4 separate regions of the Homo sapiens genome follow, and regions 2, 3 and 4 are each reported to be linked to region 1. Evidence: microRNA targets listed by miRTarBase, many of them from high-throughput screens and not tested one by one. Region 1 holds a microRNA gene; each other region holds the end of a gene's coding sequence.
What was found. Region 1 holds the annotated microRNA hsa-miR-4460 (AUAGUGGUUGUGAAUUUACCUU, at 3,269-3,290, shown strand). A microRNA usually pairs through its seed, bases 2 to 8, with sites in the 3' UTR of a target mRNA and lowers its output. Matches are read on the target gene's strand: a 7mer-m8 pairs with bases 2 to 8, a 7mer-A1 pairs with bases 2 to 7 and ends in A, and an 8mer does both.

Region 1 (8,115 bases):
AACTCTAACATCAGAAGTTTAAGCTACTAATTAACAGATAAAAATCTCAGCTTTATAGTCATAAAGAAAAAGGAAATGAGAAGAAAAGAGGTCAAGGGAAAAATTTAAGTAAATATATTGAATGTCAATCACAGTCAGATATAACACAAAAGAAAAGTACTTTTAATTCAGTGTATTTTTAATCTCACTGAATGTATAATACATAGCATTATATCTTGTGTTACATTTCCTGTCCCTTTAAGAAATCCTAATTATTAAAATTCTTAAGTATAAAAATTTTCTCAAAGGAATAGAAAAACCTTAATTTCTTTTTAAAATGTCATTTGACCAGGCTATTTCAAAAGTTAGCTGCCTTATCTACATCTTCCTTTTTCATGTTTTCAAAAGAGAAAATTTATCTAATTACAGATTGAAAGAAAAAAATGTTATTGTTGTGATGTCCATATAATGTAATGAACCTGCCACGTATATTTCTCTATATGTTCCTTTTTGCCTCTATTTAAAAATGAGTTGATCCTGCTTCGAGCCAGGTCACTTATCACATAAAATAAATGAGGACAAGACTTAAGGCTGTGTATTCAAGGCCTGAAACAAAACTACAGTAGCAGCCTCAGGGTACAAGATCTTGAGTTACTTTCCAAAGGAACAATGTCTTCATTGCATATTACATACAAGTGTTGCATGAGACATCATCTGTGATAGGTTATTTGGGAAAGTGTCTTTGCCACCCAAAATATCCATCTAACATGCTAGCTAGACTCTCAGATTTTTTTCATTTAGAAATTCAGTTTGAAGTGATACAATTAAAAGAGAGTTCACTGTTTAAATGAGCCCAGAAGAAGTAACAGGTAATGCATACATACAAAAAATGAGTGTATATATAAAAAATGAGTGTCTGCCCACCAGCAGCACATCCTTTCCTCAAGGCTCATTTCGTAGCAGGTCCTAGAGTCTGAAATAATATGGGAAGAGGGAGAACATGCCAGAAAAACATATTTGCCTATTTGGTATTTTTCCTCGAATGGCTATAACCTCTTACATACTTAAGAATTTAAGCCTGCAGCAAAGCTTCCAGGCTTCAGGCATGCGCTAGGTGAAGAAAGGACTACAGAAAAAAGCCAGCTTCTGTCTAAAAGCTGAGTGACAGGGGGAAGAATTGGGAGGTGCCAAAGTCATGTGACAGCTCTTTGTGGAGGGCAGGTATGAGGAGAAAGGTAACAGCATCAGACCACATACTATCTGAGGTATGAGTGCTGTTAGCCTCAGATCCTGGCTTTAAATTAATGTAATTAAATTCCTTAGGGCACTGTCCTTAGAATAACAATATATCACAACCTTTGAAAGAAGGAATGCATATAGACCAGGAAGAGAGAAGCAGATCTAAATATCATACTAAAGAAGAAGAAGTATTAACACCAATTTCATGACTGTTCATGTTATTCCATATAAAACCAGTTTCCATACAATTTTTTTAAATCAGGCTCAAGTTGTCTCCATGAAGATGAGCAACAGTTTATGCCAACGATGTAGGTATTTTACAGATGTGTATGAGTTTCAAAAGATGTTCAGCCTCCAAATGGTAAAACATTATGTGCGCTAGTAAAATATGCCACTTTAATCAACAATAGTGAAATGATGAATTTTTTATATATAAATTATATAATAAGGAAATTAAGTTGCTTATCTCGTTTGTGATGTTTCCATAAAATTGAAACTTTTCTAAGTCTATCTCTCTTGCATACACATAAACATCATGCACACATATTTCCTTTTTCATCTTGAATTTCTTCTAAATATGCAGACTTCACAGGCCTGGTCTTGATGCCAAAATGAACCCCTTTCATTTGCTGATTGAGATCTGGCTCAACAGCCAATGTTTCCCGCTGGGTCCTTACAGAGGGTGCATTCACATTTTATCCTAATTTATTCATTATCAAACATCAAACCTTAGGAGGATAAAACAAAAAGCTAGTGAACAATGCAGGGAGAATGTGTTGGTTTGTTTTCATCTTCACTCTCAGATGAAAGAATTCTTCAGTAGCATTGCCTATTCTACCAATACATCATCCAGGTAATTGGGGGGCTTGAGGGGGGAATGACAGGCTGGGCCAAATCAACCTTCTGCATCCACTGGCACACACAATAACCTCCAACATCAAAAGTATCTAATGAGAACTTGAGAATCCAGGGCTTTATATTAGTTGACCCAATCTTGTAATTAAGTATCAAAACTCCCCATGCTTTTTGTGAACATTTACAAGCTGCATGGCAAGATCTCAACATATACAAAACAAAAGACCTTAGTCATACTTTCCTTCTAGGAGGAAAGCTTTAATGACAGCTCTGCACAAACACCAGATTTCTGTATCAAAGACCCCAGTTTCTATGTTGGTTTTGCTGCTTTGAGGTTGAATAATGAATAAGCCACATATTTTCATTTGTTAGAAGAAATATTACCTTCCTTTGGGGTGTTTAAGAAGGTGGATAAAATCGTAACATGAAAGTTGCTTTGTAAAATGTGAAGTATCTTACAAATGTTCAGTCTGTGTATTATTATGACAAATGGTGATACTATTGCTTATACTTATCAGATAAAGCAGCAAAGGCAGTAACATTTTCTATCATAATTGGCCCCACATAGAAACGGTTGCAAACTTGTCATTATTTGACAGTACTGTGGTGATACAGTTTGGCTTTGTGCCCCTACCCAAATCTCATCTCTAATTGTAATCCCCAGGTGTTGAGGGAGGGACGTGGTGGGAGGTGTTTGGATCATGGGTGGGGTGGGGGAGGTCGGCGTCAGTTTCCCCCATGCCCTTCTCATGATAGTAAGTTCTCACAAGGTATGACAAGGTATGACGGTTTTGTAAGGGGCTCTTCCCCCTTTGCTTGGTTCACATGTTCTCTTACCTGCTGGCATGTAAGACGTGCCTGCTTCCCCTTCTGCCATGATTGCAAACTTCCTGAGGCCTCCCTAGCCATGTGGAACTGTGAGTCAAACCTCTTTTCTTTATAAATTACCCAGTCTCAAGCAGTTCTTTATAGCAGTGTGAGAACAGACTAATACACTTGGTAGAGCAAATATGTAGATTTTCTGCCCTACTTAAAATTCCAACATTAGACATTCTCTGGTTTAAGACACTGAATAATGTCAAAGGTACCATGACACTATGAAGAAGAGATAAACAAACGAATGTTGTCATCTCTTCTGATTCACCTTGATAAGAATTAACAGACAACTCTCACAGAGAGGCACTGTTTTTTGCCCATAGTGGTTGTGAATTTACCTTCTCCTCTTTGCAGTGATAAAGGAGGTAAATTCACAACCACTGTGGGCAGAAACCAGGTGAATCTTCAGAACCTTGCTGGATAGAGGTTTGCTGCGTTGTCTCACCAGTGTTGACCCCAGTTTTAGGCAACAACATTGCTGTTCCTGTTCCTGTCTAATCAGCTAACTGCAGACACAGCATTGAGGTTCTTGAAGCTAATCTTGTGTCATATTTTTGGCTTTCTTGACCTTTTGCTTTAATAATGCGTGTTTTACTGCAAAGGCAGCTCAACAATGGCCTGGCCGTCAAATCATTCAGTGGATTCCCCATTCTCCTCTACCACCTACTGGTATCTGGGATTCTTGAACATTGGAACAGGTTTTAAATATCAACTCAAAAAGATTTCTGACTCTACCTCTCTCACTTTCTACTGATCCTCATAGTTTCATAAAGCAGTTTGTTTACTTAATGTGGCTGTTTACAAAAAGGGATAATCTCCTCTGGCCACTTCCTGGCTAAAAAAAAAATCAGGAAGAAATGAGGGTTTTATTAATTTATTTGGGATGTTCAAGATTCTGATCTATTTCTGGATATGATGATTTTCTCTTTCCCCTAACAGCAACCCCAGACCCAGTTGGTTGGTACAATCTCCAGATGGTAGTCTGGCCAAAAGAGTACCTAAGGAATTTAAATTTAATTCTGGTTTGGTTACCTGGCTTCTCATGTTGGACTGACATGCTTCTAGATGATAAGTACAATGACAACTTAGTTGAGACTGCTGCACACCAAGTGGCTACATGTGGCTGATTTGTGACAAAATGGGATAATACGGTTATCTATTTTATAGAAGTGCCTCTGTTTCTCTATACCTGTTCCTTCTGGACAAAAGATCTGTTTGTGGTGATATCTGGAAAATAGGTGAAGTTACAGCAACTAGAATTGGACACTCTGATTTTGTGACAGTAGAGGGATAATAACAACTTTGGAACCTGGAGTTTACTCAAACTCCAGGAGTAAATAGGGAAGTAAGGATATGTAAGACAATACAATAATAATAAGGCAAAAAGATTTATGATAATATCTTGAGCCATGATAATGCATGGGAAATTTTTAAATGCTTATTTCTGTGAGTTAACTCTAAGAACACTCTGGAATGCAGTAGGTAACAATTTTAAAAAGCTAAGAAAATAAAAATTGAGACACTTGGATGACCCTGGGTCATAGCAGTACGTTAGAGCTACTGCTAACCATCGTGGCTTTACATATGGGACAGGTACTCTGCAACATACTTGGAGAAGTCAATTCAAAAATATAGAAAAACAGGGAAGAGATTTCTTACCACACATACAGTTCTTTGCTCTTTTAATTTTGTTGACAAACTCTAAAATATTTAAAGAGGCTTATTCTGAGCCAATATGAGTGATCTCAAGAGGTCCTGAGAAAGTGTGCCTGAGGCAGTTGGATTACAGTTTGATTCTATACATTTTAGGGAGATAGGAGTGATAGGCAAAGATATAAATCAATACATGTAAGATACGCATTGGTTTAGCCCAGAAAAGCAGGACATCTCAAAGTGGGGGCCTACAGGTTATACGTGGATTCAAAGATTTTCTCATCGGCAATTGGTTGACAGTTAAGCTTTGTCTAAAGACTTGAAGTCATAGAAAGAAATGCCTGAGCTAAGATAAGGGGGGTTGTGGAAGCTAAGATCTTTGTTATGTAGATGAAGCCTCTAGGTTGTAGGCTTTAGAGAGAAGAGAGAGCCTTTAGAGATAATAGATGGCAAATGTCTATTTTCACACCTTAAAAGGTATCACACTCTTATTTTTTATTTATTTATTTTTGAGACTGAGTCTTGCACTGTCGCCTGGGCTGGAGTGCAGTGGCGCGATCTTGGCTCACTGCAATCTCCACCTCTCAGGTTCAAGCAATCTCCTGCCTCAGCCTCCCAAGTAGCTGGGATTACAGGTACCTGCCACCACACTTAGCTAATTTTTTGTATTTTTTGTAAAGACAGGGTTTCACCATGTTGGTCAGGCTGGTCTCGAACTCCTGACCTGGTGATTCCCCCACCTCAGTCTCCCAAAGTGCTGAGATAAGCCCCTTTCCCCCGCCGGTATCACACTCTTAATCTCTCCTAGATCCATGACAGGTCTGGCTACATGAATGGTAATTCTGTACAGATAAAAATTTCTCCCAGGGCCATTTCAAAATATGTCAAAGAAATATTTTGGGGTAAAATATTTCAAATTTATTCAGAGTATGCTATTTGTCACATGAAGCTATACCAGCATCAAGCTCGAGTTTGTTCGGTCAGTCGTACGGTTTTTTTGTTGTTGTTTTTTTGAGATGGAGTCTCGCTCTGACACCCAGGCTAGAGTGCAGTGGCGTGATCTCGGCTCATGCAAGCTCCGCCTCCCGGGTTCACGCCATTCTCCTGCCTCAGCCCTCCGAGTAGCTGGGACTACAGGCACCTGCCACCACGCCCGGCTAATTTTTTGAGTTTTTAGTTAAGACGGGGTTTCACCGTGTTATCCAGGATCTCCTGACCTCGTGATCCGCCAGCCTCGGCCTCTCAAAATGCTGGGATTACGGGCATGAGCCACTGCGCCCAGCCGACCTCTGTTTTAATGTTAATGTTGGTCAATTTTGTACTAACTCCAAAGGAATGGGATATAATGAGGCATGTCTGATGTCCCTTCTAGTCATGGGTAGGAATTCAGTTTTTCAGGTTTCTCTGAGGTTCCCTTGGCACAGAGCGAGTCTGTTCAGCCACCTGGGGAGACTTAGGGTTTCATTTTTGGCTTATAATTCTTTTAGCCCTCTGGAATTAGCTTATGTTAAACAGATGTCAGCTTTAAGAGGAAATCAATTTAATATTCATTTAGAGATTAAGTTGATTTTCTTTTTTAATGTGGATAAAAGAAGGTAATGATCCTTTGGCCTTAAAAAGAGGAAGGAGTTCTGGACAATTGAAGAATTCCCTATAGTTGACTAAAAAGTCATAAAAATACATCTTAGTTTTTTTTTCTTCTGTGTTTTAAAAATTTAGAGCAGTATAGATCCTTATATAGACATGTTTGTATTTCTGTGCATTCACACATATATGCATATATGTACGTACACAAATATACCCCCATTTACTTTAAATTATTGACTGAAATAATGATATTTTAATATATTTTATTTTAAACATACTTCAACAACTAGAAATTTCGTACTTTATTTCCATGTTTAAGATTAACCAGAAATTTAATGATATGTATTTTAAATATGTCACACTGGAAAAATATAGCCATGTAATTACTATATAAGACCAGAATGTGCTAAAATAGTGGATTTAAAATTGTTTTTATGTTTAAAAAGCAGTTTGAAAACAACTGTTACAGAGTATAGTGTATAGGATCATTGCTACCTTTTAGGTCTTCATCTTATTTCACGAATTAGCCTGTCCATAATTTTTGTCTGAAAACATTATAGTATGATATCCTTGTATTATCTCTTAATACACGATGTACCACCAGTTCGTTTTACTTGTTTCCTTCCCTCTTCTCTTCCCTCTTTCTTCTAAGAGTTAGCAAAGCTCTTCCTATGCCATTGAGAAATACTTTTTCTTATACAAATCACAAAATATTCCTTATAAAAATGATTCCATAGTTAATGCAGAATGTCAATCCAGGCACTATAAAGACCAAAAGATTAAATAACTTTCAAATATTTATAGAGGAAATGCTTTAAGAATTTTATAGGATTTTACTTCTTTTTCTTGGGACCACAGGTTGATTCTTAACCTATTGCTTTTCAATTAATTTTCTCTACTTTTAGACATTCAACAGGTATAGAACTTTTGGTTCAATGGTTGTAAACAGCTGTAAATATAACAGAAGTGTATAAGCTAGACATCAGTGGCATACGTACAAAAATAAGAAAATAGGAAAGCAAAATTTACTGAGTTGGGAGCATCTAAAAAAAAATCAGTCTCTTTGCTGGAGACTTCCAGGTTTAACATCATTTTATTTCCTGAAAAAATACTTTTAATAAGAATGAGCTTTTAGATAGAATAGCTTCCCATACAGTTCTAAATAAAGTTTTGGATATTTGTGAATATACCGGGTCTTACTTAAAATCATTACAAAAATTCATGCCACAAAATCTGCCCACTGATGGTTAAGTACTTTAGCATGACTCACATTATATCACCACTGTTCCTTTGGGAAGAAATGCTTAAACTTTGGCAAAATATCCAAAGCATTTAAATATTTATAATACGAGGGTCAAGCTGTGCCCCATATCTGATGAAAAACTTCAATGGAGTGTTAAGTTACTACTCAATTTTCAGCTACTCATTCAGATCACGTTTCCGTTACTTTCTGTTACTGTTGAAATTGATGAACGATTCTATGCAAAGGAAGCCTTTCTGAAGAACTCTGGAGGTTTTCACGTCTTTCCCTTCTGTTTCTTCATTAAGGTAGTTTCTTCTGAAACCTAATGAAGCAAGCACATTTAGGAGAAAAAAAAGACTAAATTACTTAAGCCTAACACTTTCACTCGAGGATCCAGAGTATAGTTCTCTTTCTTAAAAAATGGCTGATATAAAAACTGAGCTTCATCTGGAATTACAGGACACTTCTTCACAATAGGATAAAAAAAGACTGGATGCAATGAAAGTGTAACATTCTCATACTTGCCATACTGCCTTTTAAGAAAGAAAATTCTGTGACAAAATCAAAACCCCAGGACTCAGGAGTTCAGAGTTCCTATTACTGGTTTAAAGGAGTCTTTAAAAATATTAATATTTATTCAAGGAATCTTAGTTTACCAGCACAGTGATCATATATCTTTCTGT
Region 2 (8,115 bases), not on the chromosome of region 1:
GAGCTCTGGCTCCAAAGAGTCTCTAGGTATTGAAGAGCTCTTCACATGCATGCACCCCTGCCCACCCCCAGGAAACATGCCTGTGCAGTTTTCCATTTTAAGTACTTACACAAGCTCCCTAGCTCTGGGGAAAGAAGTAAGGGAAATTAACCACTTATTGAGACCTGAGTCTGTGCCAGTCTCCATTATATTTTCTTCCTCAAATATACCTCACTGACTCATGGGTCCTGTGGTCCTGGACCTGTGCAGGTAACATGGCAGGGTATTGTCTCAGATTATGAAGTGAAAAGGGTAGAAGGTGTTGAATCTTTTCTCTCTTTCTCCTTACCCTTCTTAATCTTCCCTCTCCCACTCCCCATCACCCGCCTTCCCACCACTTAATTTCTCTTGTTTGTTCACCCTAAGATATATATTTCTGGGACTCTTGGTTTAGGGATGCTCTTAAGAAGTCCCACACTAGGGAGATGCAAACATGTCCTACCTCCAGTGAGTTCCATGATCAGCTTGCTGGATTTCCTCTTCTTATTAGGGGCCGGGGTTCCTGAGAGCGGCATTGTGGAGGTGGATTCAGCCTGGACAGGGTGGGAAGGAGGAGTTGGTGGATGGACAGGGACTGGGAAGAGTGAGTGTCTGTAGGAGAGCAGCACTTCTTAACCTGGGTTTAAGGGCTTGAGGGGACAAAAAAATTTTTTTTTCTTTTTTAGAGACAGGATCTCACTCTGTCGCCCAGGCTGGAGTGCAATGGCACAATCATGCCTCACTGCAGCCTCAACCTCCCTGGGCTCAGGTGATCCTCCAACTTCAGCCTCCCAAGTAGCTGGGACTATAGGTGCGCACCACCGTGCCTGGCTAATTTTTGTATTTTTTGTAGAAATGTGGTTTTGCCATGTTGCCCAGGCTGGTCTCAAACTCCTGGGCTCAAGCAGTCCTCCTGCCTCCCAAAGTGCTGAGATTACAGGGGTGAGCCACTTCACCTGACCCAGATTTTCAAAGAAGCATGTATTTCCCCAAAAGGTGAAAACTTGCGCTTTAGGGCTTCTCTTTTCTTGGGATACAGGACAGGAAGTATAGATGCACACCAGCCCCTGTTGTCTACCAACCTGTTGTGAGCTGTTTTTCATAGAGTCAGTGCAGGAATTAGGAACATAGCTAGGTGTGGGGAGTGTTTAAAAAACAATAACACAAGCAGGGCAATGCACCCAGGTTTCATTGGCTTGGCATGATTTGAAGTTTTTATTTGCACTGGGATATCAGACTGGGGCTGTGATTCCAGGCTCTGGTCTCTCCTCAGTCTTCCCCCAGTCCCCAGGAGGACAGAGAAATATTCTGCCAGGGTTGAGGAGATTCAGCCAAAAACACTCTCCATAGGAAGGAGAGGTTGTTGCTCCTTCATCAGGCCAGCTGGAACATGGCCTGGGAAGTCATGGCCCTGCTCCTGCAATCACTCCCGCCACAGACCCCAGAGTGGAGGCAGGTGTGGAACTGGGAAGGGTAGGGAGCATTCAAATCCCGACACGTCAATTCAGCAATATCATAGCAGTGGGGAATTGAGGTGGGGCAGAAACATAGTAATAGGATCTGGCAATGGAAAGGGACAAACTGGGATAAGATGGACTCCAATCCCTTCTTAAGAGAAGTTGGCACTCAGTGAAATGCTGTCCTCTTCTAAGTCCTGTCTCAAAAAATACATCTGCAACTCTACTGACTTAGTGGGGTCTCCCTTCCCATTCTTCCAGTGCCTCCCCCGACATCTCCATTCCCCCCAACCTCCTGGGCCCCTCTCCTTCCAACTCTCCTTCCCCTCTCCTTCCAACTGGACAGCTGGGAGCTGAGCATAGATGAGGAGAGGGGAGACTCCCCCAGGATCAAGAATCACAATTGTAGACACAGACACAGAAGTCAACACAGTGGGCTCCAGCCTTTCTAACGATAGAGCTGGAGACTTACCGGCTGCTCGGGCAGTGGTCAGCTCTCCCTGGGGTCCAGCAGCTTTGGAGGACTGAGCTGCTGTGACCGGAGAACACGAGCTGGGCAGGCGTGGGGGCAGCACTGGCAGTGGGGGAGGGAAGTTGGTTATTAATAGAGATGATGAGCGCAAGCAGCTCAAATGGCACAGGGGGTACTGAGACCCTGGAACCAAGATCCCTCCCTCCTTGCCCGGAGGCTCAGGAAGGAGGGAAAAGGCCTTTGGGATTCTCCCACTGAACTGTCTGAGCCAGGGATCAGTCTGCCCAGGGACTCCCCTTCACATTGCACCTAGAGCCTGAGATCCAAAGAAGCACTTAGGGAGAAACTGAAGACTGAGAGGGAGACAGGAAGTAGACAGCAAGTATTGGATAGGAATTCAGTCAGAGAGAGAGAGTCTGGGGAACATGCCCTGAGGGCCACACAGAGCCAATCCAGGGCAGAGTGGAGAGACCTGTGGGTGTATTTGGAGCAGGGAGGGCTTAAAGTGCTATATTTGGGGACAAAAAGGGAAGTCTTCACAGTGGAACTGCTCTTTTAAAGTTCCTGGATAGGTTGGTCTTTTCTCGGTAAGGGCTAGATCTTGGCAGGTTAAGGGACCAAATTAACTAAACCCAGTACCTCCTACAAAGGAATGATGTGGGGAAGACTTGACAATTATTCTGTCTGCCTCACTCCCTATTCTTTCCTCTTGAGCTCTGGCAGTTTTAATAAAAGACAAACACTTGGATCTGCATTTTTTTTTTTTTTTTTTTGAGATGGAGTTTCGCTCTTTTTGCCCAGGCTGGAGTGCAGTGGTGCGATCTCGGCTCACTGCAACCTCCACCTCCTGGGTTCAAGCAATTCTCCTGCCTCAGCCTACTGAGTAGCTGGGATTACAGGTGTCCACCACCATGCCCGGCTAATTGTTGTATTTTTAGTAGAGACGGGGTTTCACCACGTTGGCCAGGCTGGTCTCAAACTCCTGACCTCAGGTGATCCACCCACATTGGCCTCGCAAAATGTTGGAATTACAGGCGTGAGCCACCGCCAGGATCTGGTCTCTAAGGAGTTATTCTCTAGCCACCACGCCCAGCCAGGATCTGCCTTTTAACCTCCATTTGCTGTTGAGATGCTCAGTTCAACCTGCTGTGCGGGATAGACATCGATGTCTCCCTGAGAAGCACATATAGGCTCTCTGAGGTTTCTTTTCTTCTTCTTTTTTTTTTTTTTTTTTGAGACGGAGTCTCGCTCTGTTGCCCAGGCTGGAGTGCAGTGGCGCAATCTCGGCTCACTGCAAGCTCCACCTCCCAGGTTCACGCCATTCTCCTGCCTCAGCCTCCCGAGTAGCTGGGACTACAGGCGCCCACCAACACGCCCGGCTAAATTTTTTTTTGTATTTTTAGTAGAGATGGGGTTTCACCGTGTTAGCCAGGATAGTCTCGATCTCCTGACCTCGTGATCCATCCATCTCAGCCTCCCGAAGTGCTGGGATTACAGGCTCTCTGAGGTTTCTACTTGAGATTTCCTGCAAAGGGAGCACATACCACATAGGATCTGGACTGTGCCATTTGTACTGTTCCAGCGGAGTCTCTGGGCAGGGCCACAGGCTTGAAAGCCCCTTTGGGGAAAGCCTATCATTTCCCCAGGCCCTTCTTCAGTAGCTGCATGATCTTCCTCCACCTTCTGCTTAGATTCTGGAACCAGTTGCTGCAGCACTTCTGCTGCAGCCACCACAACCCTGTTGCTGCTACCTGAGGAAGTGGCTTTATTTATTTATTTATTTATTTGAGACAGGGTCTCACTCTGTTGCCTGTGCTGAAGTGCAGTGGCACAATTTTGGCTCACTGCAACCTCAGCCTCCCCAGGCTCAGGTAATCCTTCGACCTCAGCCTCCCAGGTAGCTAGGGCTGCTGGTACATGCCACCACGCCCAGCTAATTTTCATATGTTTTGTAGAGACAGGGTTTCACTATGTTTCCCAGGCTGGTCTCAAACACCTGGGCTCAAGCAATCCTCCTGTCTTAGCCTCCCAAAGTGCTAGGATTATAGGCGTGAGCCACTGTGCCTAGCTGGCTTTTTAAAAAATTATTTCTTTCTTTATTTTAGAGATGGGGGTCTCACTATGTTGCCCAGGCTGGACTTGAACACCTGGGCACAAGTGATCCTCCTACCTCAGCCTCTGAGTAGCTGGGACTACAGGCACGCACCAGGAAGTGGCTTTTGTAACTTCCTTTGTCCCCTTCTGAGCTCTTTACTCTTCCTGACCATGTCCTTTTTCCATCCTGTGGAGACCCTAAAAGGTATCCCCTCACAGTTGGCTTCTGCCCAGGCTAGTTATGCCTCCAGACCCCTCATCTTTTGTCCTCCTCCATCCCCTCCCAACCCAAGGAAGCAATTAGAAGATAAAATAGGCCGGGCGTGGTGGCTCATGCCTGTAATCACAGCACTTTGGGAGGCCGAGGTGGGTGGATCACTTGAGGTCAGGAGTTCAAGACCAGCCTGGCCAACATGGTGAAACCCAGTCTCTACTAAAAATACAAAAACTAGTCAGGCATGGCGGTGCGTGCCTGTAATCCCAGCTACTTGGGAGGCTGAGGCAGGAGAATCACTTGAACCCAGGAGGCAGAGGTTGCAGTGAGCTGAGATCGCACCACTGCACTCCAGCCTGAGCCACAGAGGGAGACTCCATCTCAAAAAAAAAGAAGAACTATAAATAGCTAAAGGTGACTTCATCATCACTACCACCCTCACCCTCAAAAACAAAAACAAACTGAAAGTTTGATCTCCTTCAACTGAGTACCCAAAACGACTGAGTGGGTGAAGACAGGCTATTTAACCTATGGTCTCTGAGATCTTTTTTTGGAATTCTAAGACAGTGCACTTGGAAGAGTCTGCGGCCTGGGTCTGATTATTGGCACAAATGTGCCCTCTGCTGGCAGAATCAGAGCAATGGCACTTTCCTTCTCTGAAGTCTAATTCTCACCTACCTCCAACGCCCTCCCTTCTTTAGTAGTCTCAATTCAGCTTTATTCTTCCCTCTCCCATCCCACCTTCCCCTCCAGCCCTCCAGCCATTGCTTTCTCTTCATTTACTTCCCAGAGACTGTTTAATATGGTTGCTTCCTCTAAGGAGCGAGGAAATGTTGATAGCAAAGGGCTCAGAGGGCCTTTCCAACTTCTCTGAGTTCTGTGAACTGAAGCCTTACCTAGAAAGTATGAGGCAAGGGAGGGAAAGGGGAGAACTTGGATGAAGACTGTGGGGAGAGGGAACCAAGAAGAGTGATGGAGGTGGCTAAATCAAAGCAGGACAGAATTTGTATAAAAGAGCAAAAGACCTGGGAACAAAGGGCAAAAGGATGAAAAATGGGAGGGCAGGAAAAGAGACAGATCAGAAATCAGATCAGGGGAATGGGTTAAAGAAGATTAAGGAGAGATCAGGATTTAGGAATAAAACTAGAAGATAACAGCAACAGAAGGTATGGGGCATAAATTTATTCTTGTGCACAAACCAAAGTATTGTGACTCACACCCAACAAGCAAAGGAAATTATCACTTTCCAGATTACACAGCAAACGTAGCTGGTGGTGGTCTTGGTGAGAAGGGAGTCCATACTAAGATTGGAGATCAGGACCTGAAGCTGAAAAGAAGCAATAGCTGGGGTTTTGAGGGATGGGGTGGGACTGAAAGGAGGTTTTGGCTCTGGGTATTTCCCTACTCTTTCCCAGGCAGTCATGGCAAGCTGCAGAAGACACACTGAAGAACAGACTCAAGGAAAATCACACAGACACCAACCGTTCTTTCAACACTCAGCACACACCCTCACACCTCCCTTCCACCATCATTCCCTTCCATTCTAACATTCTTCTCCCTCAAATTTTTTTCCAATCCCCCTCTCACACACGGTTGGTTTCTTGTTACTCAACTTTACCTTCTCCCAATATGGCATTGTCCCTCGCCACACTTCTGTCTGTGGCTCAATCACTTACACTCATTTCTGCCATGCTTCTGATTTTGGCCTCACTTGCCACACTCTGGCTCTCTTCTCCTTTCTCTCAAGCTCATGAGGCAATGAAGCCAATGATTTGTTCATTCTCGGAGGGAATTTTCTTTCTTTTTTTCATTTCCTGGGTACTGGGTTGCTCAGCACTGGCCTCTCAAGTTGCTAACTTTTTGAAATCCTGAGGTATAGAATTCTTTGTTCTATTCCTGGTCTAGCTGGTATAACTCAGCCCATGCAAACTGTCCTGGCCCTTCAGTCTTTTCATGCTCCATAACTTTCACAAGATGCTGTACACCTGCTACAGACATTGGTCTCTAAGGAGTTATTCTCTAGTGAATCTCTTTCTCCCACTCAACTCCATGTGGGGATATCTGACCCTTCTATCAGTACAACGATAAGACTCAGATTGGGTCTTTTGTTTGTTTGTTTGTTTTGAGACAGAGTCTCGCTCCGTCGCCCAGGCTGGAGTGCAGTGGCGCAATCTCAGCTCACTGCAAGCTCCGCCTTCCAGGTTCATGCCATTCTCCTGCCTCAGCCTCCCGAGTAGCTGGGACTACAGGCGCTCGCCACCACGCCCAGCTAATTTTTTGTATTTTTAGTGGAAATGGGGTTTCACCGTGTTAGCCAGGATGGTCTCGATCTCCTGACCTCGTGATCCGCCCGCCTCGGCCTCCCAAAGTGCTGGGATTACCGGCGTGAGCCACCGTGCCCGGCCTCAGATTGGGTCTTTATTTTGACCTCCCCTCTTATTCATGCCTTAGACGGAAGAGCACACACACACACACACACACACACACACACACACACACAGGCCTAGGTATATGCCAGTCAAGCTTGGGAAAGCAGAGTGGGGGGTGGGGGTGGCTTAGTGCAAACAGGGGTCAGTTCAGTCCCTTTGCTGTGTGCCTGGTGGTGAGCTTCTTGCCTGAAGTCCCAGTGGTCACTTCTGCTCTGTTTACTTCTCACTGAACATTAAAATGAGGCCCAGGGAGAAAAGCACAAATGTCAAGGAAGAGAGATCTGTGGAGGAATATGGGTGGAGAAGCCTGGAAATAAAGACAGAGATCCAGGAAAGGAAATGCAGAGACAAAGAGAGGCAAAGATACCAAAGCAGACATACTTGGTTGGAAAGCGGCAGGGAGGTAGAGAGTGAGGAGGAAGGTGGGGGAAGGGGACATCAACTTGGAAACCATCTCTGGCAGGAGGCAATTTAGCTTCCAGATGCGTGACAGGGGATGGGATAGGGTAGGAGAAGCAACTTTAGGAACTGGATGTTCCACCTCTCCTTGGTCCTGGGACCTGTGCCTGTTCACTGGTGCCCTGCCCCAGGCCTCCACACATGAGCTTGCAATCCTGTTCTGGTGGCTGAAAATCGGGGCCTGGCTACCTGGAAACCGCAGGAGCTGGGAGAAGCCCCAAGGCCCCTGGGAGCCTCTGGAGGAGGGGCTGGGCTAGGAACAGGGGCTGAGGCCAGTTCTGTTCTCCAGATGGGCTCATCCAGTGTAGTGGCTGCTCGGGGGGCAAGCACAGTGGGAGCCAGGGGTTCTGCAGTGGGCTGGGGTGCCGGAGTGGAAAACCGGCGAATCTCCTGGACTCGGGCAGTTTTGGGGGACCCTGAGGCGATAGGGCCAGGAGTCGGGGGAACCTCATCAAAACAGAACATGGCAGTTTTAAGTTGATAGGGCTGATGCCGCATAAAATCTAGAGCCTTGATGCCCTGCTTGGGTGTTGCCCGAGGCCCCTGGGATTGGGCCTTAGGGAGAGTTCGGGCCGCCTGGGGGAAAAAGGGAGAGAGCAGTGGGTTGTAAGCAATAGGAGGCGGGGCACGGATGTTGGGTGAATATTTCCAGGAAGGGGGCAGAGACGGGGTAGGAGAAGGACTTCTAGGCCGAGGGCCAAGACCAGGACCAGGTGTACCTTCCACCACATACCTGTCCGCACGGCTCTGCCGCTTAGCAAACAGCTCCCCACCCCTGCCCTGCAGCCTTGGTGGCTCAGGGATTCCAGCCGAAGAGGCTGCCCCATTCACGAGCCCATCAAGGAGCCCTCGAGATGGGGGCTTAGGAGCCACTGGGGGTGGAGTCTTAGGAGTCATAGGGGGCGGGGTCTTGGGAGCCATTGGAGGGGGGGTCTTAGGTGTCACGTGAGGCAGGGTCTTGTAACTCCTGGC
Region 3 (8,115 bases), not on the chromosome of region 1:
TACGTCATGTTTGTCACGCCCTTCTCAGCAGCGCTCATCCCTGCACTGGGATTGCCAGTGGCTCTGGTTCCCTCATATATGAGCTCATATGGGTGTGGTCCATTTTTTGTCCACATTGTGTCCTCAGAACTTTGCACAGGGCCAGGTTCCAGTAGGAGCTTGAGAAATAATTACTAGTTGAAAGATCTTGAACTTATTACCTCTCCACCTCTCTGAGCCTCAATTTTCTTCCCTGTGAAATTGACATTCCATTTGTAAAGAATGTGAAGGTTCCATGAAGTAAAGAATTCGAGTGTCCAGAGTCCAGCGTGGCACATGGTAGGCTTTAGTCTCCCTTATCCTAGGGGCTGAATCCCAAAGGTAGAGCGTGAAGTTCTGGTTTGGGAGCTCATGTCTGGTCAAGAGGACACCAAGTCACTGGAGGAATGACTCATGGTGGGGCTAGGGAAGTCAAAGGAGTTGCTATATAGTATTTCTTGGGAGAGGAAAATCAACCTGGCCAAGGAGTCCAGCAGGGGCTGGGGAGGAGCAGGAAATGTTCTTAAACAGGTCAGGTGGTGGTATAAGGCAGAGGACTCCGAAAACCAAGCTGGGGTGTTGCACCCCATACCCGAAAGGTTGGTAAGAGAGACCTATCTCAGGCTAATGAGAAAGAGAGGGACTTGATAAAATTATTCGTCAGAAGACCCACCATTGCAGCGATGCTCTAATAACCTGGCCTGATATGTGAGTGTGTGGGTGTGAATGTGTGTGTGTTTCTGTGCATATGTCGACTGCTGTCTGCACCACACTGCTGCAAAGAGTCTTAAATCTACTTTCTCATCGAACTCTCGCAAGAACCCCCGGAGGTGAAGGCTGCTACTATCCCTGTTTCACAGGTGACAAAGCAGAGGCCCAGTGGTGAATCTCTTTGCCCAAGGTCACAGGGCAAGGACTCTGGGGTGCAGTTGTATCCGATTCCAATGGGTGGAGGAGGAGGAAAAGTGATGGAAGGAATCTCAGGAGATGAAGTGATAACAGATAATGGCTTATGCTTGTAGCCATCCTTAATCTTTGTGCTGTTTAGCATCTTTCACTGTTTTCTGTGCTGTTTTGATCACGGGGATGTTCATCTTTCCAATGAACTCAGCGACACTCCTTGGGCCCCTCACTGGGGCCAGGCCCTGGGCTGGGTTCAGCTACCGAAGATAAGGTGTTGACACTAACTTTAAAAAATAGATTGGCCGGGGGTGGGGAGGGGCAGGCATCAAAGGTTGAGGGGGACAGGGCTGGGCATCTATCTTTTAAAAAATTCAAGGCATAACTTATATACAGGGAAATGCACCCATCTTAAATGTGCAGCTGGAAAGGTTTTTACATATGCAACCTCCCAGATAACCACGACTCAGGAAGACGTAGAGCATGTGCCACCCCAGGCTTCTCCTGGTCCTCCCTCCAAGGGCAGCCACTCTTCTGATCTCTGTTGCCAAGGTTTTGCCTGTTTTTGAACATCAGGAGCACGTCTTCTTAAAAAGCATCTTCAATGTCATAATCTTGTATTCAGAAAAGAAACCAAGAGCCTGGTCAGGCACAGTGAAGAGGGTGGTGAAGCGGGGTGGTGTCGGGGATCCCAGCAGTGGCAGGCTCAAGGGTGCCTCGGCTGGCTGGTGAGCAGCCAGGCAGCCATATCACCCTGATGTTCTGACACTTTGGTGGTGAGATGTGGTGTTTCTGGCTACTGACAGTGTCCAGTGTATCCTGAACATTATCTATGCCCCCCACTTTCTCACTATCAGCCCCAGCCCCCATCATATGCCCATTCAGTGCTGGACTAGACCATACCCACAGTGGCGTCACTTCCCGGATGGCGACCTTGGAGCAAAATGCTTAATCTCTCTGTGTTTCCATTTCTTTATTAAGTGGGGGATAATCATAGTACCTAACTCATAGGTTTGTTAAGAGAATAAAGTGAATTAATTTTAATAAATACTTGTCCAGAGTTTAGGAGAGTGTCTAATATGTAGTATGTGTTTATGCCAAAATTAAATAAACCTTCGTCAAAACTTGGCTGTTGGAAATGTGCTAGAAGACACATGGGCTTTTACAGTTGGGCATTCAAATCTTGGGGTTGGGGGCCAGTGGAGATTTTCCTGATTATCACGTAAAATGGGCAGGGGCTTCAGGTGGAAGGCAGAGGACTCTGGCCTGGTCCTCATGGAGGAAGGGAGTCTTAGCATTCTCCTTTGCACCAGGAGGAACCCCAAGGAGGTGTCCGATAAATGCCAAATGCTTGACTGATTTCCTGGAGGGCTGGAAAAGGGCCACTTAGCTCCCATCAACTTTCATTTCGCCTGCCAGCCTCCAGCCCTGGAGATTTGGCCGTGGAGAAGCAAGGCCCAGGTGCTGCATGAAATACACCCACCAAGTCTCCTTGTCTGGACACGCAGTCCATCATCCCCCACCTTCCCAGAGAATGGAAGGCATTTCCCCACCCACTCGGCCTGGATTCATGCCTTGAACACCCCATTCCTGCAAGCAGTGCACATATTTCATGGGTTGCTCCCGGAGGGAGGCGGAGAGCTGAACTCAGGCCACGGGCCAGGAAACTGCTGAGCTGTCTGTTACAGCCAAGGTCCTGGCCTGAGAGGAGGGTGACCTCTCTGAGCCCCGCAGAAGGCTCCTTGGTTCAGGTGGTCTCTGATCACATGGACCAGGCCAAGGGTGTAGGGATGATCCCCAGTGGGCTTGTGGATCTGAGTTCAAGTCTCAACTTGACTAAAGACTCTGCGTGAGATTGGTCATGTCACATGCACTTCCAGAACCTCATCTTTCCTTCTTTGCAAAATGGGCACAACCACAGCGATCTGATAGTCATGAGAATTAAATGAGGCAGTAAGTACAGTGTGGGGGAGAAGAGTCAGATTCCCTGGCTTCAAACTGCTCTGCCATGGGACATTGGAGAAATGACTTCTCCGTGTCTCAGTTTCCTTATCTGCAAAGCACAGAGAACAAGAGTTCCTCCCTCATGTAGCTGGGAGAAGGAAATGAGTTCTAACTGTGAAGCACGCGGCAGCACACTTGGCATAGCTGTTATTAGCTATCATGGTGGTTAATTTTGCAGTCAGTGGTCCATACATGACGTATTGATTATTAACCCAGTGGCTAAGCATCAGGCACTACAGTTATCCAGTTGGAACTGGAGGCTCAGTAACATCACTCATTAGCTGTGTGAACCTGTGTAAGTTGCACCCTCTCTCTGTGTCATCTACAGTCAGTAACATAATTGCCCTTGAGTCACAAGGTTTAAGAATTCATCAAGGTAAAGCGTTGACACATAGTAACCACTAAATATTAACATATTTATGCCTTAACTTTATTACATAATTAGCACTAATATCATTAATGATCTAATGGAGGGATAGAAAGGAAACTAACATTTATTGAGCACCCACTATAAACCAGCACTTGACATCAGTCATCTGGCAAGGATATTACAGGACAAGCATTAGATGTCTGCATTTGGTGGGGAAGGAAAGTGAGGCCCCAGGAGGAGGGTGAGCCGGGTGTCCGAGATCCCATCAGTGGTGAGAGGCCACGAGACTCAGCTATGCAGGGTCAGGGCAGGAAGGAAAGACACAAGCCTCAGTGATGGCCTACCCAGTGCCAAGCGTGGGCTCAGTGCTTCCAACCTCCTTGAATCCACACAGTCACCCTGGCAGGGACTATTCCTGCCCCATTGTGCCGACGCGGGGCCCAAGTCTCAAAGAGGTGCTGTTTGAACTCCCACAGCTACAAAGCAGCAGAGCCGAGATCCAAACTCAGTTGTCTATATGGAATTTTATCTCAACCTTACACCGGCTCCTTCTGAGCCAGGGCAAACAAAAATTGTACGTCTCTAAAACCTACGTGAGGGGCTCAAATGCTGTAGGTTGTTTCCAAACCCTGGGGTCCATTCAATCCTCTTCCAGGCTTTGGCAGGAGGGCAGGCAGGCCCCGAGGCGGCCCCGGGACGCACTCACAAAGACAAGAATACTGAACACCGGAAGGACTCATTATTACCCAGAAATCTTTATTACAAAAATATTTTGCAAGCCAAAAAGTTTAAGTTGCAACTATATACAAAATGGGGCCTGTTTCCTTCCCAGCAGTCTTAAAATAAACTCCTGAAACCATGCTCCTTCCGCAGGGTTGGTTCGACCTCTTCCTTTTCCTGGGGTTCAATACACAAGGTATGTGGATTCTCCAGGTTGCCAGGCTAAAGCTAAAGCTATACATCTTCCTTGGCCTTATTCCCTTATTTCCCCCTCCAAGAATTAAAAAATAAAATAAAATGAAAATGGCACCAAGAAAACATTCTTTTAAAATACTGAATGTGTGTGTGCATGCGTGTGCACACGTATGTGCTGTCTCTGGGTAAAAGAGAGGGAGACGAAGGTTTACAAGCCAATCTTTTGGAATTTGGAACTAGCCTGAGCCAGGTGGCTGGGTCACTGTGGCTCCCAGATGCCACACGGGAGCTCTGGCCAAAGCTGTCCACATGGTCTGTTGGCTCAGCTAATTCCTGGATGCCATCATTGAAATCACCAGGTGACCATCCCCCAGAGAGCTGGGTCTATGCTGAGCTCCTGCAGTTTCACCTGTAGGACCTCCAGGAATGGGCAGGATGGCTCAGCTACTTTTACAGCCTGAGCCAGAAATCCCTTGGGCATCCCAAGGCCAGGAGTCATGAACATTAGCGTCTCAACTCTAAGAGTTATAGTGAAGACTGAATAAATAGGGCTTGCGACATCTGCTTGCCCTGGGCCCGGTCAGGCCCTCACACCCGACTGGAAGGGTGGGGGTTAAAGGGTAACTGGGTCACACCCTCTGGCCAACCTTCTGGGACAGAGGGGGAATCAGCCCGAGCTTCACAGCTGCACCATCCCCCTGGCTGTCTTCAATTTATTCCAGTTTGATCCCAGTAGGGTTTGAGAGCAGAAATGGAAGATTTCTTCTTCAAGGATCAGCTCAGAAAGCCGGGATGGGGGCGGTCACTAAAGGGGTAGGATAGACGGCCAGGGCCACTATCCCTACCCTCTGTGTGTTCCTAAAGTGCTTATGAGAGGTGGTGGGGAGGGGTGTCATCTTCACTATCCCCACTTTACGGATGAGCAGACTGAGGCATTGGGTCTCGATAAGACTGCACTGTCAAGAGGCAGCCCTCAGCAGCCCTGGGCAGGCTGGACTTACCACAGCGGGGTCACAGAAGGCTGCACTACCAGCCGCGTGGCTCAGCTGAGAACATGGCCAAGTCAGTCCCAGCCAGAAGGCTGTGTCTCCAGGGAGTGGCTGACCTGATCCTTCTTGCCCATTCTTGGGGTTCTGGGACTTGGAGGAACTCAAGTCTTCGCTGTAAGAAAATCCCTCCAGGACAACAAACTGTTAAACCTCAGACTTCACAAGACCCAACCATGGACTTCAACACATGACAGACAGCCAAGATCACGTTGCTGTTGTTTTAAGAAAAAAAACAAAACAAAACACCACAGATCAAGTTTTCTAACACCTCAGTTTCAAGATTGCACGTTTCACATTTCTCAGTAATTTACAGGCGTCCACAGCGAGATGTTGCTTAGTGCTAGCTGGAGGGGCAAGCTCAGGTCTAGAAGGGAGAGATGGGTCCGGGTGGAGCAACACAGTTGGGCCCCAGGGAGTCTTGGAGGGACCCAAGGAAGCAGAGGGTTTTGTCTCCAGTCCTTTGGGAGGGGTCCTCTCCTCCTCCAGGACTCATGGCTCTTTAGCCTAGGGATGGGGGAGGCCAGGACTGTTGGCAGCAACCTCACCAAGCCTGGATATGGGTTCCAGAGTTTTTTTCCAGCTTTTCCATGGAAGGGGCAGTTTGATCTAAAGGGGAAATCTTCCCCACTCTAGCCCCAGTTGGGTGGTGGTGGTAGTGGTGGTGGTGGTGGTGGTGGTGGTGGTGGAGGTGGTGGAGGTCAGGGGAGGTGGGATTTTCTCCTCCCCACCCTGGAAGATCAGGCTTCGGAGCATCGGGGAGGCAGTCGAGGGTCTTCAAAACCCACATGGTGATGGACGGAGGCACAAGAGTTCTTGGACCCCAGGCAGTTCTGGCCACTTCCCAGGTTGGTTCCCTGGCTGGTTTGGCAACGTCAGCCTCCAGGTATGTGGCAATGTGGGGGGAGGGGGCCGTGGCTGCCCAGGAAGTGCTGGAGAGCCAAGGAGGGGTGGGGAGAGAAGAGCCACCCTGGCCCCTGGGTCCCAGAGCCTGCACCGCCCCAGCCCTCCGGGAACTGGGTTGGCTGTGCTCATCACGGCGGCTCCCTGTGGGACAAGAAAGCGCGTAGAGATGGGTGCTAGAGCAAACCACGGTCCCATTCACTTCCTCGGGACCTGGACGCTGGCGTACTCTGAGAAGGACGGCTCAGGCTTGGGGGCCGGCTGCTTGGGGGTCCGGTTGAGGTGGACCATGTCCAGGTCAGCATAGGTGAGGGTGTCCTCCGACGCGGGCTGCGGGCTGGTCTGAATGCTGGCATACTCCGTGTGGTTGTTGGGCTCCGCAGCCTGGGGAGCAGGCTTCTTCCCCTTGGGCAGGTTCAGGTCTGCATATGTGATATCATTTGTGTCCTGGATTTAAGATACCCAAAGAGAAAGTCATGAGAAGGTCATTCTATAGCCCCTGGCCCACTCACTCAAACTGAATACCAAGTCTGGATGCTTCTGTGTCCTCTCGGCCCACACTGGCTCAGCCATAAGTCATGTTCCCCTCATCTCTTGCCAACGTTACTTGCCTCCAGCCTTGCCCCTTCCCATCTGCCCTCCTCCTCACCCTGCCTGAAGGGTCTTTCTGACCCGCACAGTGCAGTCTCCTCACAGCCCCGCCTCAGTGTCACCTCCTCCCGTTCCTGCCTCCTCCTAGCCTGAACCACCTGCAGTCTTCACCCATTTCTCATGTTCATCCCTCGAGGGTGTCTGTCCTGCTTCTCCTTGTAACAAATCCCAATCCACCATGTAAATTTCAGATGAAGCATGGCTCATACTAAGACCCTCCCTGGCTCTCCCCTCTCCTGGCAGGGTCCATGTTCCTTCTTTGTGCTTCCTCAGCCCATGTTTGTTTTCCATCACAGGGCCCGCTACCCAGGACCATGTCTGTTTGGGGGCCTGAGGAGGTGCTGCTGATGGTGGTACGTGTGGGGACATTCATTAATGTATGCGTTTATTCCACAAATATTCACTGGGCATTTGTTATGATTCAGAAACCAAGGCTGGCACATAAGAAGTCTGATCCATATTGAATGAATATATGAGTGGATGGCAATAATTTCACCTTCACTCAGGGCAAAGCTGGGGACAGGGAGACAGAGAACAGGGGCAGTATAAGAACGAGATCGCCAGTTAGTGAAGCGGGAAACGTTCTGGAGTCAGAAAGCCTGGGTTTGAATCCTGGTTCTAGCTCAGGGATTTTGAGCAATTCACTTAACCTCTCTGGGCCTCAGTTTCTCCATCTGTAAAGAGGGGATGATAATAGTGTCTACTGCCAGGGTTGCTGTGAGGATGGAATGAGATTATCCAGGTAAAGCGTTTAGAACAGAGCCTGGTACCTATTGAGCATCTGTCTTCAATAAATGTTCGCAATCATTAACCACTTAGCAAACTTGGATACCTCCCATGTGCTAATCCTATCAACCTGCCACTGCCGCCTCAAAAGCGCCCATCATGAATGATAAACTTTGCTCCCTCTGTGACTGGCCCCTGCGTGATAGAACAGAATAAAGCTACCACCAACCGGCACACCTCCTAGTTGGTGCACGGTAATGGCTGATTTCAGTTCTCAGGGCTTACAAGCAGCACACAATCACATAGATCACCCCATCCACTCTTACCACAACCCTGCTTGGGAAGGATTATCTATTCCACTTTACGGCTGAAGACACTGAGACCAAGGGAGGTTCAATAAAGTGGACAAAGTTGTCCGGCTGGCAAAGAACCAAAGTGTGTTGGACTCTACGACTGTGCTCTTAGCACACAGCTCCTCTGTCCTGAGCCCTGCGTGCTCTCATTTGCTTCTGTCTGGGAAATCCGTGTTGACAGCGTGCAACTCCCTCCCTGGCCAGGGCTGGCACCTGGCACTGGAATCGC
Region 4 (8,115 bases), not on the chromosome of region 1:
TCCATGGAGTTTGCAGCCCCAGCTGCACAGTTGGCATGATGGCAGCAGCCTCTGCCACCACCAGCACTTTGGGAGGCTAAGGCAGGAGGATCATTTGAGCCCAGGAGTACAAGACTAGCCTGAGCAAGATGGTGAGATCCCATCTCTACAAACATAAACAAAAATTTAAAAATTAAAAATTAGCCAGGCATGGGTGCCTGTAGTCCTGCTACTTGGGAGGCTGAGATGGGAGGATAGCTTGAGCCCAGGAGTTTGAGGCTGCAGTGAGCTATGATCACATCACCACACTGTAGCCTAGGTGACAAAGAGAAACCCAGTCTCTATTTAAAAATAATAATAACAGAACTAAAAGAAAAAAATAGATAAATCCAATATTATAGTTGGTGACTTTAACACGCTTCTTTCAACAACTGATAGACTTACTACGTACAAAGTCAGCAAGAATATAGAAGAACTTAACAATATCATCAACCCATCTAATTGACATTTATAGAATACTCCAACAGCAGAATGCACATTCTCAAGTACCTATAGAACACTCACCAAGGTATACCATATCTGGGCCATAGAAGAAACCTCAACACATTTAAAATAATTGTTTTTTTTTTTTTTTTTTTTTTTTGGTTAAGAGACAGGGTGTTGCTCTATTGCTCAGGCTGGAGTGCAGTGACACAATCATAGCTCACTGTAACCTCAAACTCCAGGGCTCAAGAGATCCTCCTGCCTCAGCCAACATGTCTGGCTGATGTTTGAAATTCTTTGTGGAGACAAGATCCCATTATGTTGCCCAGGCTGGTCTCAAACTCCTGGGGTAAAGGGATACTCCCACCTCAGCCCCTCAAAGTACTGGCATTATTGGCATGAGCCACCACATCTGGCCAGCACGTTTTTTAATCATTGTATTTTTCATCATTGTGTATCCTGTGGATATCAGGTGATGTTTATTTTGGATTCTGAACACCACATATACAGCTTGCCAAAAAATTAGAATTCATCCCTTCTATTCCTATCCAATTTTCTTATAGCACAAAACTCCCAGCCCCAGGTTCTAAGCTATGGCTCTTCAGCGAGACTCACCTCTAGCAGAGAGAACTACCTCTGACCCATTGGCCTTGTCTGACCAGTTCTATCTGAGCAGCATAGTACAAAGCTGTGCCAGTTTATAGTAGTGTCATGGGATTCTTGGGATGTCACTTTTCCAGCTGGAAACCTCTGTGGCCAGTGGTGCCTTTGCCCAAGTGTTGCTCGGGCTCACTGTGTTTGTTCCACCCACTTGGCCTGGCAGGCTGTGCTCTGCTTGTGCTACTGGCCTGGATTCCATGCCTGCCATGGGTGAACCAGATGTGCAGCAGCAAGGGGTGTGTGAGCATGGGGTCTGGCCACACTGTGCACAGCCAGGCATGCCGGCTGCAGCAGACAGGGAGCTCCAGGCACCGGCTCCATGTGAGGTTGTGGCTGGACCAGACATACTGCAAGCAGCTTCCACTGCAGGCACCAGGGAATGCGGTGGCACCTGGGAGCTTGGAGACACCAGGAACCACAGAGCCCCAAAGAGGGTGTCATAGCCCTGGCTCTGGGAGCCCCTGGGTCTGGGCTTCTCAAAGAGCCACAGCTCTTCTCTTCTTCTAGTCGCCCACATAGTGGCAAGCAGTGGAGTGACAGGGCCGGGCGGGGGGGGGCGGCAGGCGTGTTTCAGCCCTGTTTGTGTTACAGCTCTTTCAGTTCCACCATTCCTTGGGTCCTGAGTTCTTGTCCATATCCAGGAAGAATGAGGTACACAGACAACTGGAGGGCAGGGCAGAGAGGAGCTTCATTGAGCGACACAGCAGCCCTCAGGAGACTGGCAGTGAGTAGCTCCTTTCCACATGCAGGTCGATTCAATGTCTCTGTGAGTGGCTGAGTCCAAGGTTTTCATGGGCTTCAGAAGGGAGGAAGTGCATGCTGATTGGGCCATGGATGGCCCAGAATAAGCATCATGAGTTCTCATTCTGGGCGATGGACTCCACCCAGAAGTGACAGTCCGGCACCCAGGCTTCAGGCTGTCCCTGGCTTAAAGGTGGTACTTCACTGGACCTGCACCTTTCCACCCAGGAGCCTGCCTTCTGCCACCATCAATAATGTCATCCACGGGACCCAAGCTGTTCCTGCTGAGGGGCACTTGCAGACCCCTGCCAAGTCACCCTTGGCTCCCCCTCAGCCCCTCTCCCATGCTTGTCAGTGTACAAAGTTTAGAGGGGGCCAAGGTGGCAGGGGGCTGGTGTGTCAGCACCGCCAGGAGGGTGTGCACACATGGCCAGGTCACAACAGTGCTGGGCTTGGCCTCAACTTTGCTCTAAAAACAGAGTGGGAAGAGGCTAGGCAGTGGGAGCATGCACTTCTGAGTCTGCGGGGGCAGTGAGGCTTCGTAGGCCCCTAAGAGCATAGGGATGCCTGGATCCACAGCTGTGGCTGTGCTGCTGTAGCTGCACCCAGGAGGGTGGGGACCCGCCAACTTGAAAGGGGGCGGGGCTCCTGCCTGTTCCTGGCTCTCCCTGGTTCTGTGGAGCATGCAGCCCTCACCACACCTCCCCAGCCGCAGCTGGCGTCTTTGCAGTGACCACTCCAGATGGGCTGCCACTGCCAGGAGTAGGTTCCCACTCCTGGCAAAAACTGGAACACATTGTGCTCAGGATATTCCTGCCCCTGCTCACAGTACTCAGTGGGAAAGACACATCTGGCTTTTCCTGGGTCTGATTGAAGCCCGTCTTAACACCTGCAGAACAGAGGCCATGGTATCACCTGGCATGCTCCTCCTTATGCCACTGAAATTCCAGAATCCTTGGAGCTGGTGTGTATGGGACTATGTGGCTTTCACACATCCCACCCTGTATAGCCAAATCTTCAGGGCCTGGCATCAAGTTTAGGAGTCAGCCTGCTCCAGGGCTTTCCTTAGTGCCGGGCCTACTAGATCCTGGGTAGAGAGGACATATGGAAGACACCAGGCAGGAACTTTGGAAGCCAGGTCTGGCAGAACCAGGGCTCTGCAAATACGAAGCAAGGGACATCAGGGCCTTAGTTTGGGTTCCATATGAAATGGCAGCCAGAGTGTGTGCAACATGTAGCAGTAAATGATCAGCTGAAGTGGGAGTTAGAAAACAGACCGTTTCACTCACCCATTACCTCCAGGCTTGTGTTCATTTTAGGTTAAAGCCCAGTTACATAGGAAATGGTACCGCACTGATCTTATTTGACTTCTCCTATTCCCTGGTCACCAGGGCCTTCCTCTGCTTCACTTTCTACTTAAATATTTGAGAGCACCAAATTACCAGAGGGTAGTCAGTGAGAGGTGGGCTTTCCCAGGTAGGTTATTCCAGTCCCAGTTCTCTGTCTCATGAGAGGGGACAGTTGCTTGTCTCTAAGGTCAGTAAGGGCACAATTTTGGCAAACATTTGCCTATTTGCCCTGTGGTGTTCTGCTCAGATCTCCCTTCAAGAGAACACAGAGTGAACATTCTATTTGGCCGACAGCTTCCACTCTTTAGAATGTTCTGCAGTGATCACAGCAGCATCCCTCTCTACAGGCTGCTCTGAGACAATGACAGGTGGACAGTGCTAGAGCCCAGCCAAGTCGGCCAGACATGGGACTCCTCAGTCATGTAATCTTCATTCTGGGGCTCTGTATCAACTTGGCCAAGATTTTCTGAGTAGCACTGTAATTTTTCTCTTTCTCCCTTTCATACATGTGTGACTGTCATCGTGATCTATAGGTTCTCCCAATCTATACCTGAATTGATATGTACTGACTAATCAGAGCTTGTTTAGGTGTCAGAAATGCCGCAAAAGCAGTATCTACCTCTTGCTCCCACATTCCCAGCTTAATCCAAGAGACCCAGAATAAGGAGAAATCAGACGGCTGTGATTCAAATATGTAAGAAATAGCTTTTTACTCCTCTTCTCATTTAAAAATTTCCAAAGGGTAAATAAACGGAAAAGGACAAAAATACCTCTTGTGCCTAATAAATAGTAAATTTTCTTTTTTTTTTTTCTTTTTTTGAGACGGAGTCTCGCTCTGTCACCCAGGCTGGAGTGCAGTGGTGCGATCTCAGCTCACTGCAACCTCTGCCTCTTGGGTTCACGCCATTCTCCTGCCTCAGTCTCCTGAGTAGCTGGGCTACAGGTGCCCGCCACCATGCCTGGCTATTTTTTATATTTTTAGTAGAGATGGGGTTTCACCGTGTTAGCCAGTGTCTCGATCTCCTGACCTTGTCATTCTCCCATCTCGGCCTCCCAAAGTGCTGGGATTACAGGTGTGAGCCACCATGCCCGGCCAATACATAGTAAATTTTCTATACTGATAAACACTGCTAGAAGAAACTGGAGCTGGAAATTTCAAAGAGGGATGGAAAGTCAGGGTCCAGTTCTGGACATTTCTTAGAAAGGCAGCCACGGCCGGATGCGGTGGCTCATGCCTGTAATCACGCCACCGGCTCATGCGGTGGCTCAAGCACTTTGGGAGGCTGAGGTGGGAGGATCATTTGAGGTCAGGAGTTCCAGACCAGCCTGGTCAACATGATGAACCCCCATCTTTACTAAAAATACAAAAATTAGCCAGGTGTGGTGGTGCATGCTTGTAATCCCAGCTACTCAGGAGGCTGAGGCAGGAGAATTGTTTGAACCCAGGAGCCAGAGGTTGCAGTGAACTGATACTGCGCCACTGCACTCCAGCCCGGGTGACAGAGTGAGATTCCATCACAAAAAAGAAAAAAAAAAAAAAAAAAGGCAGCTGCTAGGCCGAGCACGGTGGCTCACGCTTGTAATCCCAGCACTTTGGGAGGCCAAGGCAGGCGGATCACCTTCGGTCAGGAGTTCAAGACCAGCCTGGCCAACGTGGTGAAATCCTGTCTCTACTAAAAATACAAAAAATTTGCGGGGCGTGGTGGCTCGTACCTGTAATTTCAGCTACTTGGGAAGCCGAGGCAAGAGAATCACTTGAACCTGGCAGGCAGAGGCTGCAGCGAGCCGAGATCATGCTGCCACACTCCAGCCTGGGTGACAGAGCGAGACTTCGTCTCCAAAAAAAAAAAAAAAAAAAAAGGCAGATACTGGGGACAGCAGGACACAGCAAAGGAGCAGCACAGCCCGGATCATGGAGGGAAAACAGAGCAGCCCTGCTGGAAGGAAGCAGTGCTCAGGTTGCGAAGTGAAGAAAAGCTCAGGATGAAGAGACACCAAGACTGGCCAGAGCTAGAAAGTGTCTAGCCCTTGGAAACTTCAATTACCATGGAAATAGCTTCACTCCCACTTTTAGAGGCTATGGGAGATCCTCATCTTTTCAGGAAAAAATAAAAATGAAAAGTCAAAGCAACAGGGCAATCCAAATCCATCCTTTACTTAGAAGCCTTCCTGAGCTGAATGGCTATTTTCTCAATCTCACCTTTGCCCTACCTCGGCTGGAAGCACAGGAAGCAAGAAAGCTGACGTTTCCAAGAATGGGTAAGAACATAATATTTGCAGTATTTATCCATCCTTTTCATGCCTAGATTTTGTCCTTTTCTATGCCCCATGCCAACAAGCTGGCTTCTCTTCCTTTATGGCTCCTCCTTCTTCCTGCCGCATACTCTTGTCACCCTAAGAATTTACCCTAGACAAAAGGATCTAGAGGCAAAAATGCTTTTCTGTGTCTTCTGTAGGGAAAGCGGAAGAAAAGGGAAGGTTGTTGGTCTTTTTTTTTTTTCTTTTTTTTTGAGACAGAGTCTTGCTCTGTCGCCCAGGCATATGCACTGGCGTGACCTTAGCTCACTGCAACCTCTGCCTCCTGGGTTCAGGCAATTCTCCTGCCTCAGCCACCCGAGTGGCTGGGATTACAGGCGCATGCCACCATGGCCGGCTAATTTTTGTATTTTTAGTGGAGATGGGATTTCGCCATATTGTCCAGGCCGGTCTCAAACTCCTGACCTCAGGTGATCCGCCCGCCTCAGCCTCCCAAAGTGCTAGGACAACAGGTTTGAGCCACTGTGCCGGTCTGTTGGTCTCTTTTTACCCTAAAATTGTTAAGTTCTTCTTTCAAGAGCACAGCAGGGGAAGGGCTGGGGAACTTAGACATATCGCCAAGTCAGACTGAGATGAGAACTTCTAATCTTACATGTTTAATACCAAACACAAAGCAAACACATTCATCATCTAGAGTACTATATTCCAACCCTATCTCAAATGCAGGAATGGGCCTCTATCTGGTATCTAGAGGATGATCATAGGAAACAAAATGAGGACAGAGGCATCTGGTATCTTCTAAAAGTGGTACAAAACTCCCGCCTGTCATGTCATAAAGCTCCCCATCTGGTGCTGCGACCCACCTCCAAGAGAAAGCCAAAGGAACAGACCAATAAAAGGGGTCCGGGGTGCTTTCTCTATTTCACTCACTCCTCTTATTTGCTAAGGAGCTCCAATAACCAAAAGAAATGGTTCCTAGAAGAAGAGAACTAAATCTCCAGAGAGCTGCTGGGGCATACCGATAAAAACTGGGAGAAACAAAGACTGACAGCAGAGAAGTCCAATACTGCTGCTGAAGTTTCTCAGCCTAAATCCGTGAAAGAGCCTGGGATTCTACTGCTCTGTCCAGTAAGAGGAGCTTCTGGGTCCTGTATGACCCTTCCAACTCTGACTTGAATGCACCATCTAAAAACGTGTCTATCTCTACCCCTAGGCTTCTTAGCTCTTCAGTCATCCTCATCATCCTCAATCTGGTATCGTTTCTTCTTTTGGATTCCTGGAGCTCCCAACTCTGGTGCTGTGGGAACGATGGGGGTGAGAGAGAGAGAGAATATCTAAATATGTTAAGGGGTAAGGACGTGGTAGAGTTTGTCTTCAGGATTAGAGAAGAAAAAGAAGGTCCCATCAAATTCCCTACCTCTGTTCCTGCCCTCATCTTCTTCCTGTTCCTCGTCGCTGTCCAGCAATTGTCGTTTCTTGGGTGCTGCCTTCAGCGGCTCTTTACCAACAGCGTCTTCCTCTGCAATGACCATAAATGACACAAAATTAGGAACTCGGTCCTCATATTCTCAGAACACCTTTCCTGCCCTCTAGACCAACATGGCTGACACGTTAATACTCAGAAGATGGCTGTCGCACTATTACCCTCTGGGGATGCCAGGCCCGCTTTCTTCTTGTGGGCTAGCAAGAGGGCCCTCAGGGCTTGTGCTCGGTGCTCTTTACAGTGCTCCTCATCAGAGCCTTGCTCTCCAGGGACTTTAGGCTGCAGCTCTGGCTGCAGCTTCTGTTCCTCCTCTGGTTGACTCAAAGAAGCTGCTGCCCTCCGGAGCTGGGTAGGACTCAGCTTGGCTGGAATTCGCCAGAAGGTTTCCTACAGGGGCCAAAAAGTTGAAAAGGGAAAGGACCAGCTTTTTGTTTCCCAGAGTATGATATTCATTGAATATATATGACCCAATATTGGTGAAGATCCACAAGGGTTGTGAACTCTATTTATTATAATACTTACTATCTAATATATACCCAGTGCCTAGCACAGTGCCTGCTACATTAGGAGGTTCCCAGTTATAGGTTTTTTTGGTTGTTCTTTTTTTTTTTTTTTTTTTAAATGAGAAGGGGTCTGCCTCTGTCACTCAGGCTGAAGTGCAGTGGCACAATCATGGTCCACTGTAGTCTCGATCTCTTGGGATCAAGCTATCCTCCTGCCTCAGCCTCTCAAGTAGCCAGGACCACAGGGGTGCATGCCACCATGATGCCCAACTACTTAAAATTTTTTGTAGAGACAGGGTCTTGCTGTGTTGCCCAGGCCAGTCTCAAACGATCCTCCCACCTCAGCCTCCCAAAGTGCTGGGATTACAGGCATGAGCCACTACACCTGGCTATAGTTGTCAATTGAATAAATAAATAAATAAATAAATCCTGGGGATGTAAAGGTGAATCAGGTATGATCCTTGCTATCAAATAACTCACAATCCAATGGGAAAAAGAACAAATGTACTGTAGTATCACAGGATTTTTTTTTTTTTCTTTTTGAGGCAGAGTCTCACTCTGTTGCCCAGGCTAGAGTGCCGTGGCAAAGCAATAAAGGCTCACCCTCCTGGGTTCAAGCAATTCTCCTGCCTCAGCCTCCCAAGTAGGTGGGACTACAGGT

Region 2: miRTarBase lists SYNPO2L as a target of hsa-miR-4460. Seed matches in the 3' UTR shown: 7mer-A1 at 6,541-6,547.
Region 3: the mRNA of SIRPA is a reported target of hsa-miR-4460. Seed matches in the 3' UTR shown: 7mer-m8 at 5,910-5,916.
Region 4: the mRNA of TIMELESS is a reported target of hsa-miR-4460. Seed matches in the 3' UTR shown: 7mer-A1 at 5,881-5,887.

Annotation. Positions count from the first base shown.
Region 1 is chr5:129,392,290-129,400,404 of GRCh38, reverse strand. It overlaps MIR4460 (microRNA 4460), which reads left to right and starts at 3,258; the gene lies at 3,258-3,343. It overlaps LOC102723654 (a long non-coding RNA gene), which reads right to left. Exons shown (of 8, transcript XR_001742463.2): 8 at 6,477-7,754. RefSeq lists an enhancer at 1,314-2,302.
Region 2 is chr10:73,639,464-73,647,578 of GRCh38, forward strand. SYNPO2L (synaptopodin 2 like) reads right to left here. Exons shown (of 4, transcript NM_001114133.3): 4 at 5,423-8,115. The coding sequence ends at 7,255. MYOZ1 (myozenin 1) reads right to left here and starts at 2,011. Exons shown (of 6, transcript NM_021245.4): 1 at 1,948-2,011; 2 at 482-572. The coding sequence starts at 554. RefSeq lists an enhancer at 4,635-4,684.
Region 3 is chr20:1,935,808-1,943,922 of GRCh38, reverse strand. It overlaps SIRPA (signal regulatory protein alpha), which reads right to left. Exons shown (of 8, transcript NM_001040023.2): 8 at 3,331-6,603. The coding sequence ends at 6,355. Among named protein-coding and RNA genes, the nearest start is that of PDYN-AS1, 7.3 kb to the left of the region's middle. RefSeq lists enhancers at 3,233-3,732, 3,733-4,234, 5,748-6,300, 6,301-6,855.
Region 4 is chr12:56,411,022-56,419,136 of GRCh38, forward strand. It overlaps TIMELESS (timeless circadian regulator), which reads right to left. Exons shown (of 29, transcript NM_003920.5): 27 at 7,113-7,338; 28 at 6,886-6,987; 29 at 5,342-6,765. The coding sequence ends at 6,695. Among named protein-coding and RNA genes, the nearest start is that of TIMELESS, 34 kb to the right of the region's middle.